Linked DNA regions of Homo sapiens. The protein of the gene in region 1 purifies or fractionates together with the protein of each later gene. This does not show direct contact. Each region holds a gene or a part of one and is shown on either strand. Other genes may lie near its edges.

Region 1 (3,654 bases):
GGCAGTGCCACAACCTGGCAGGGGCTCAGACCTCCAGCAAGTAAGGGCCAGAGAGGCTGCTGATACCCTACAGTGCCCAGGACAGTCTCACCGAGACCCCCAGCCCCTGGCCATGAACGATCCAGTCCAGAACGTCAGCAGTGCCCAGGCTGAGAAATCTCATCCTAAAGCATGGCCGGTGGAAGAGGAGACTGCTGGACACTTCTGTGGCCAAGCGTATTTAAAAAATGCTACACACTGTGAACTCCTTTCCAAGATTCGTAATGCATATAAGTACTTTAACAGCTGTAAGTCCTACAGAAAATGAAACCGCACAACTGTGTTTAACCTAGCCCCTCTGAACATCGGTGTATAGAACACTATGACTGTGGCTGGACCGAACACTTTTTGGCATCCCCCAAAGCCAGTGTTCTAATGGTAGAAACGGATACCAATGATACAGAGACCATGGGTCACCACTGTGCTAAGAATGGAAAAATAAAATCCTGTTGTTGAGATGAGCTCCAGCAGTCTGTCAACACATCAAGGGCAAATCCAGTGTAAGCACCAGCCACACAGGCAGAGACTCAAGCCTGCCACAAGTGACAACCTCTTCTCTCCTTAGGTTAGAGAAGGCCCCTGCCTCCAGCCACTGGAATGAGATTCTGGGGATATAAAATCGGAAGCCAGATAGTGCTGACCAGAAAGGACAGAGATTTAGGTTTATCAAGGTCATTTAACACAGAAGTAGCTGCTAGTTTGGGGGAAACTGTAGTGGGCACTATCCTAGCCACAGATCACCTCTCTTCAGCAGTGGCCTAACAAACTACAGCCTCACTTTCCTGAGTCTGTTCCTACATATGTGATTCACCAATTCTAAAGCACGTGTGTTGGTGTAAGCGTATGGCCACAAGTCCTCTCTGGGTGTCGGCAGAGCCTCTGTGAGGGCATAGTGTCTGCTTAGGGATCTTGAACGTCCTTGCTGCGCCAACACAAAACAACACGTGCTACAATGAAATGCAACCCAGAGAACACGAAGTGGCGGCTTCTGCTGCAGTGGTTACGTGGTGACTGGCCAGTCCTCAGAAAGTTGATGGGAAGGATATGAGCCTCTGTAACTTCCCAGAAAAAGAAGAATGAAACCTGCCAAGTGCATCTACTAGACAGACAGCGAAAATACCAGCTCCTTCATATACCACCACTATAAACCACTGTCGCAACAGAAAAGGCCCTGCTCACCCTTGCACCTCCTTCCCAAATCTGCTGTCACATTTTCTCAAAGAGAAGCAGGGAAACAAAAATTAAAAAGGTTCAACGATCACACACTGCTACTTACACCCTTACATCACTTTCTGTTTGCTGATGCATTTGGGCGGTGCCGTGCCACTGACACAAGATCTTAGTCTACACTACCCCACTAACCCACAAGCCCTACTTGAACCAATTTCACAGAATAAAACCATAGCAAGGAGGAGCAAGGTATTTTGCATGAAACGACAGAAGGCAATGACAGAGACTGACTTGTGCCACAGTAGTCTGTGTCCTTATGAGGTTGCTCTACAGTTTACACTTCTTTCCTTTTTTGAAATTAACATAGGATATGCTTGCAGTCACAACGAAACACAAACAGGAGCTGTACGTCCATATCTGAATATACAGCACTACACACACAGCACATACACAGATAGATACACGTAATATTTAACACAAAATTCAAAGCCAGTTTGAAATTATCCTCAGATCCACAATAAAATATAAATTTAAATTGTGTTTTACCTGATAGATAAAGCCACTCATCCTAGGACTGGCAGACAACATTAGCAAAACATTTGGGAAGAGTAGAAGATATCTTTCATTCTTTTCCTAATACAAAAAAAGAAATCCAAAACATTTCTTAAAAAACATCTACTTAACAAATGTGAGCACAAATACTTCACTTATTTATACTAGGCCCTATGAAACATTACATGATATTTCTCGTTTAGGTATTTCTATCAAGTTTTATCAGGTAAATTAAATGGAAACAATTATGATAAATTCTGTATTAAGTCTTAACATATGATTATGAGAGAGCTTTAACATATAGGTAAAGAGAAGGACTTCCAAATTCTTCAAAAAACAAAAGGTAAGAAAGTAAACGGACTGATTAAAAGATCCTGGACTCACAATTAGCCTGTGTAACATCTTGAAACTATATTTGGTTAAAGAGTTCAGCTCTGTGATTAACTATTTTCAGGTAAGCTAAAATTTTCTTTTTCTGGTTCAGAGAAAAAGGAGAGAACCTATAAATTTTAATGGGGTCAGGGGGAACAGGTGGAGTCTTTAAGCTAAAGAAAGGATAAAATGTTAAAATCAATTTTGGTCTACTAGTAATTCCTGGCACTTCCCAAACCTCCCAAATGTCGACTCAGTGTTGTTTTCATCCACCCCATAAACATCACCTGGTTTACATCAGACTTAAAAGTATTACTTATGTATTAAAAATCATTTGCTTCAGTAAGATAAAAGCCAAAGAGACCATAAGTGAAAGAAAAAAGTTCCTAAGAATCCAAAAAGAGACAAAAAAATGCCACAGTCCTTTTCACATGTTGACATTTAAACTACGGCCCAAAAAAGTGAAATCAGTCCTAGGAATTAGTTTCCCCAAGTATATTCCTCAGAACATTAGGCTTATGCAAAGCACCTTGAGAAAAGAGTCTTCCGTACTTTAAAGAAGTCACTGAGAACGACTTGCTATATTCCCCTCTTGAAGAATCACAACATACATTGGGAACATTCACAGCCAAGTCTCTGAGGAGCTCTATCATAAAGAATCTTTTCCACTAATTACGTTCAGTCGTGATCAGAACCACTCTGAAGCATTTTGGAGTAACACCCACCAGTGCTGTATAGATCTAATATTATAAAGAACACACTTTGGGAAATGTTTCCACAGATTAAAGTTTAAAAGAGCATGACTCAAAAAGAAACTTCTTCTGAAAAGATGTGAAGTTTTTATAATCATGGTTTCTTATGGTACCCAAACTACAAGACTATGTAGAAGGGGTGATATTTTACAGGTGGAAAGGAAAACACACTATATAAGTTTGAAGTTTTAGTTTTCTTATTCTCCTTGGAGTCTTGTGTTCAAAAATGAGTCATTTCGCATGTTTTGATCATGTTATTTTTGCAAAGGTAGAATAAAATTCAGAAAGAGGTGCCTGTTCAGTGACCCATTGAATGTATGTCAATGTGAATCATGAAACAAACTGCTCGATTTTCACTGTGTGGGTGGGTATGTCCCAAAAATCTGGGTTGATCTCTCACTTAAACCAAACCTGTAAGAAAACTGTGACTCCTGTAAGCATATGTCAGCTAGCATACTTTCACAGGAAAGTATAATGACCCGAAAGCATTGAGAGCAGCAGGTCCCTGTGAGAGTGAGCCTTGGTACAAAGTTGCTGGCCAGATAAGCGCATACAGCTCCATGCGGATGTGTGCACAGGACTCCTGCAAGTCTTTCTGCACACTATCTATCCTTCAGTTCACGTGGGCTTCGGGCCACACTGACTTCAGCTGGATCAAACTGATCAACAAGTCCACACTCAGCTCTAAGCCTCTCTAACATGCCATAAGCCTCTCTCCTGTGTCAAGAATAAAAAGTAGCTCACAAATTATAAGATAGAGCTTCTATTA
Region 2 (3,654 bases), on another chromosome or scaffold:
CTGAGCTCAGGAGTTTGAGGGTGCAGTGAGCTATGATCATGCCACTGCACTCCAGCCTGGGAGACAAAGCAAGACCCTGTTTCTAATTTTAAAAAAACATTAAAAAAAAAAACCAAACTCAAATAGAAAGGTGAAGATGACTGAGTGAAAAGAGGCAACAAAAATATATCCAATATAATATCATTTTAAAAAAGTGTATATGAAGTTTATGCATAGAAAAAAATCTGGAAGACTATACCAAATTTCTGCAGATTAGTGTTTTATTTTCTCATCTCTATCTGTATTTTCTAATTTTCTAAAATACATGTGTCCTACTTCTGCTGTAAATTATTAAAGAAAAATCTCCCAATGTCTTCTCACTGCCTTAGAATAAAATTGAAATGTCCTTCCATGGCCTAGGTATTCCTGTATCATCACTGAGCTGGGCCTCTCCCCTAACCCTCTCCTGCTCTCATCCTGGCTCTACCATCCTGCCTTTCTCTCCTCCTAAAAGACGAGCTCATTCCTGGCCCCCCTTGGGGCCTTTCTACTTGTGCCCTCTGGCTGGGACCCTCCCATAGCTGCCTATTTCTCAGTGGTTAGGTCTCAGCTCAAATATCACGTCCTCAGAGAAGGCTTCCTGGGGGCAGAACAATTCAGCTTTCCGAAAGGAAGAGTGAACACTGTGCAGCAGAAAGAGCCCTGGGCTGGGAGTCAGGATACCACGGTTCTACACCTGCTATGATTGTCACTGGACCGCCCATGCCTGAGTCCCTGATATAGAGAGGTAGACAGATAAATATAGAAATAGACAGTCATGCACTACATGGTGACATTTCAGTCAAAGATAGACTACATATGACAGTGGTCCCGTAAGATTATAATGGAGCTGAAAAATTCCTGTCGCCTAGTGACATCACAGCTGTTGCGATGTTGTGGCATAATGCATGACTCACTTGTTTGTGGCGATGCCGGCGTAAATAAATCTACTGCCAGTCGTATAAAAGCATAACACGTGCAATTATGTACAGTATGCAATACCTAAGAATAATAAATGACTATGTTATGGTTTATGTGTTTACTATATTATGCTTTTTATTGTTATTTATTTATTTTGAGATGGAGTTTCACTCTTGTCGCCCAGGCTGGAGTGCAATGGCACCATCTTGGCTCCCTGCAACCTCTGCCTCTTGGGTTCAAGCGATTCTCCTGTCTCAGCCTCCTGAGTAGCTGGGATTACAGGCGCACACCACCATGCCCAGATAATTTTTGTATTTTCAGTAGAGACGGGGTTTCACCATGTTGGCCAGCTGGTTTTGAACTCCTGACCTCAAGTGATCCACCCGCCTCGGCCTCCCAAAGTGCTGGGATTACAGGCATGAGCCACGATGCCCAGCCTACTGTTATTTTAGAATGTACTCCTACTTATTAGAAAAAAAAAAAAAAGTTAACTGTAAAACAGCCTCAGGCAGGTCCTTTAGGAGCACATTGTTATCATGGTAGATAGCAGCTCCCTGCATGTCACTCTCCCTGAAGACCTTCCAGTGAGACAAGATGTGGAGGTGGAAGACAGGGACATTGATAATCCTGACCCTGTATAGGCCTAGGCTAATGTGTATGTTTGTGTCTTGGTTTTTAACCAAAAAGTTTAAAAATTTTAAAAATAACGAAAAATTTTAAAAATAGAAAAAAGCTTACAGAATAAGGATACAAAAAAGAAAATACTTTTGAATAGCTGTACTATGTGTTTGTGTTTTAAGCCAACTGTTGTTACAAAGGAGTCAAAAATTTTAAAAATGGAAGGTTATAAAGTAAAAAAGTTGGCCGGGTGCAGTGGCTCACACCTGTAATCCCAACACTTTGGGAGGCCGAGGCGGGCGGATCACAAGGTCAGGAGTTCGAGACCAGCCTGACCAACATGGTGAAACCCCGTCTCTACTAAAAATACAAAAATTAGCCAGGCATGGTGGTGCGTGCCTGTAATCCCAGCTATTCAGGAGGCTGAGGCAGAATCGCTTGAACCTGGGAGGCAGAGGTTGCAGTGAGCCGAGATCGTGCCACTGCACTCCAGCCTGGGTGACAGAGTGAGACTCCATCTCAAAAATAAATAAATAAATAAATAAATAAATAAAGTTAAAAAGTTACAGTAAACTAATTTATTGTTGAAGAAATACAATTTTCAAAATAAATGTAGTGTAGCCTAAGTGTCCGGCATTGATAAAGTCTGCAATAGTGTACAGTAATGTCCTAGGCCTTCACATTAACTCACCACTCACCCAGGGCAACTTCGAGTGCCGTAAGCTCCATTCCTAAGTGCCCTATACAGGTGGACCATTTTAAATCTTTTATACCATATGCTTCCTGTAACTTTTCTTTTTCTTTTCTTTTTTTTTTTTTTTTGGTTTTGTTTTTTTGGAGACAGGGTCTCACTCTGTCGCCCAGGCTGGAGTGCAATGGCACGATCTCGGCTCACTGCAACGTCCACCTCCCGGGCTCAAGAGATCCTTCCCAAGTAGGGAAGGCCTCCCAAGTAGCTGGGACTACAGGCATGCACCACTCCGCCTGCCTAATTTTTGTATTTTTTGGTAGGATGGGGTTTCACCATGTTGGCCAGGCTGGTTTTGAACTCCTGACCTCAAGTGATCTGCCTGTCTTGGCCTCCCAAAATGCTGGGATTACAGGTGTGAGCCAACACGCCTGGCCTTCTGTACCTTTTCTATGTTTAGATACACTGACCATTTTGTTACAGTTACCTACAGTTTTCAGCACAGTAAGAAGCCGTACAGGTTTGTAGCCTAGGAGCAATGGGCTACACCACACAACCTAGGTGTGCAGCAGGCTGTCCGTCTAGGTTTGTGTACATATACTCCATGATGCTCACACAATGACAAAATTGCCTAATGATGCCATTTCCCAGAATGTATCCCTGTTGTTAAGCAATGCATGACAGTATATATGTGTGTATATGTGTATACACAATACTGTCATGTGTTATATACATACATGTATACAACATATATATGTACACACACACACACACACACTGAGGAGAAAGGACTAGATGTCTAATTTCTCAGGCAAGAGAGAAAATGAGTAGTTGGAGTTCCATACTCCCCAGCCCTGAACTTTCCCTGTGGAAGCCCCCAGGGTGTGTAGGAGACACAGGGGAAGTGGGGGTGCTGCAGGGAAAGACAGGCCTACCATGTGCCAGGAGCACACTGTACCTTCAGTCTTCATAGAAATCCAGCAAAGTAGGCATCACTATCACCCCTATTCTACAGATGTGGAAACTGAGACTCAGAAAGGTTAGGAGACTAGTCCAAGGTCACACAGCTAGCACTGCAGCAGAGCCAGCATGGAATCCAGCTGTATCCAAAATCCCTGCTTTTCTCACTCTACTGGGACCCCCCTCCACTCAAGGCCATCTACCAGGTTCCCTGTTCATGGGGGGCCCATCTGTTTGTGCCCCCACCAAGCTCCCTCCATCACACCTTCCCAGGCAGGGCCCACCCTCACCTGCAGGGGGACCTTGACTTTGTTGGCCACCTCTCGGATCAGGGCCTCTGACACCGCGTTTGAAGCATAGCGTTGCTTGCTGTTCACCTTGATCACGGGGCCCTGGGGAGAGTCAAGGTGAGGCAGAGGTAATGACAGGCCCAAAGGGAATGAGTCGGC

The links. The genes of interacting proteins can lie anywhere in the genome.
Region 2: the proteins of ARHGEF7 (region 1) and DNPEP purify together in Homo sapiens (affinity purification with mass spectrometry; one large-scale study listed by BioGRID and IntAct). This does not show direct contact.

The regions. Positions count from the first base shown.
Region 1 is NC_000013.11:111,275,775-111,279,428, reverse strand, and holds part of ARHGEF7 (rho guanine nucleotide exchange factor 7), read right to left. Parts: intron 1,843-3,654; coding exon 1,756-1,842; intron 1-1,755. UniProt on the Homo sapiens protein: Acts as a RAC1 guanine nucleotide exchange factor (GEF) and can induce membrane ruffling. Functions in cell migration, attachment and cell spreading. Promotes targeting of RAC1 to focal adhesions. May function as a positive regulator of apoptosis.
Region 2 is NC_000002.12:219,377,840-219,381,493, forward strand, and holds part of DNPEP (aspartyl aminopeptidase), read right to left. Parts: intron 3,598-3,654; coding exon 3,496-3,597; intron 1-3,495.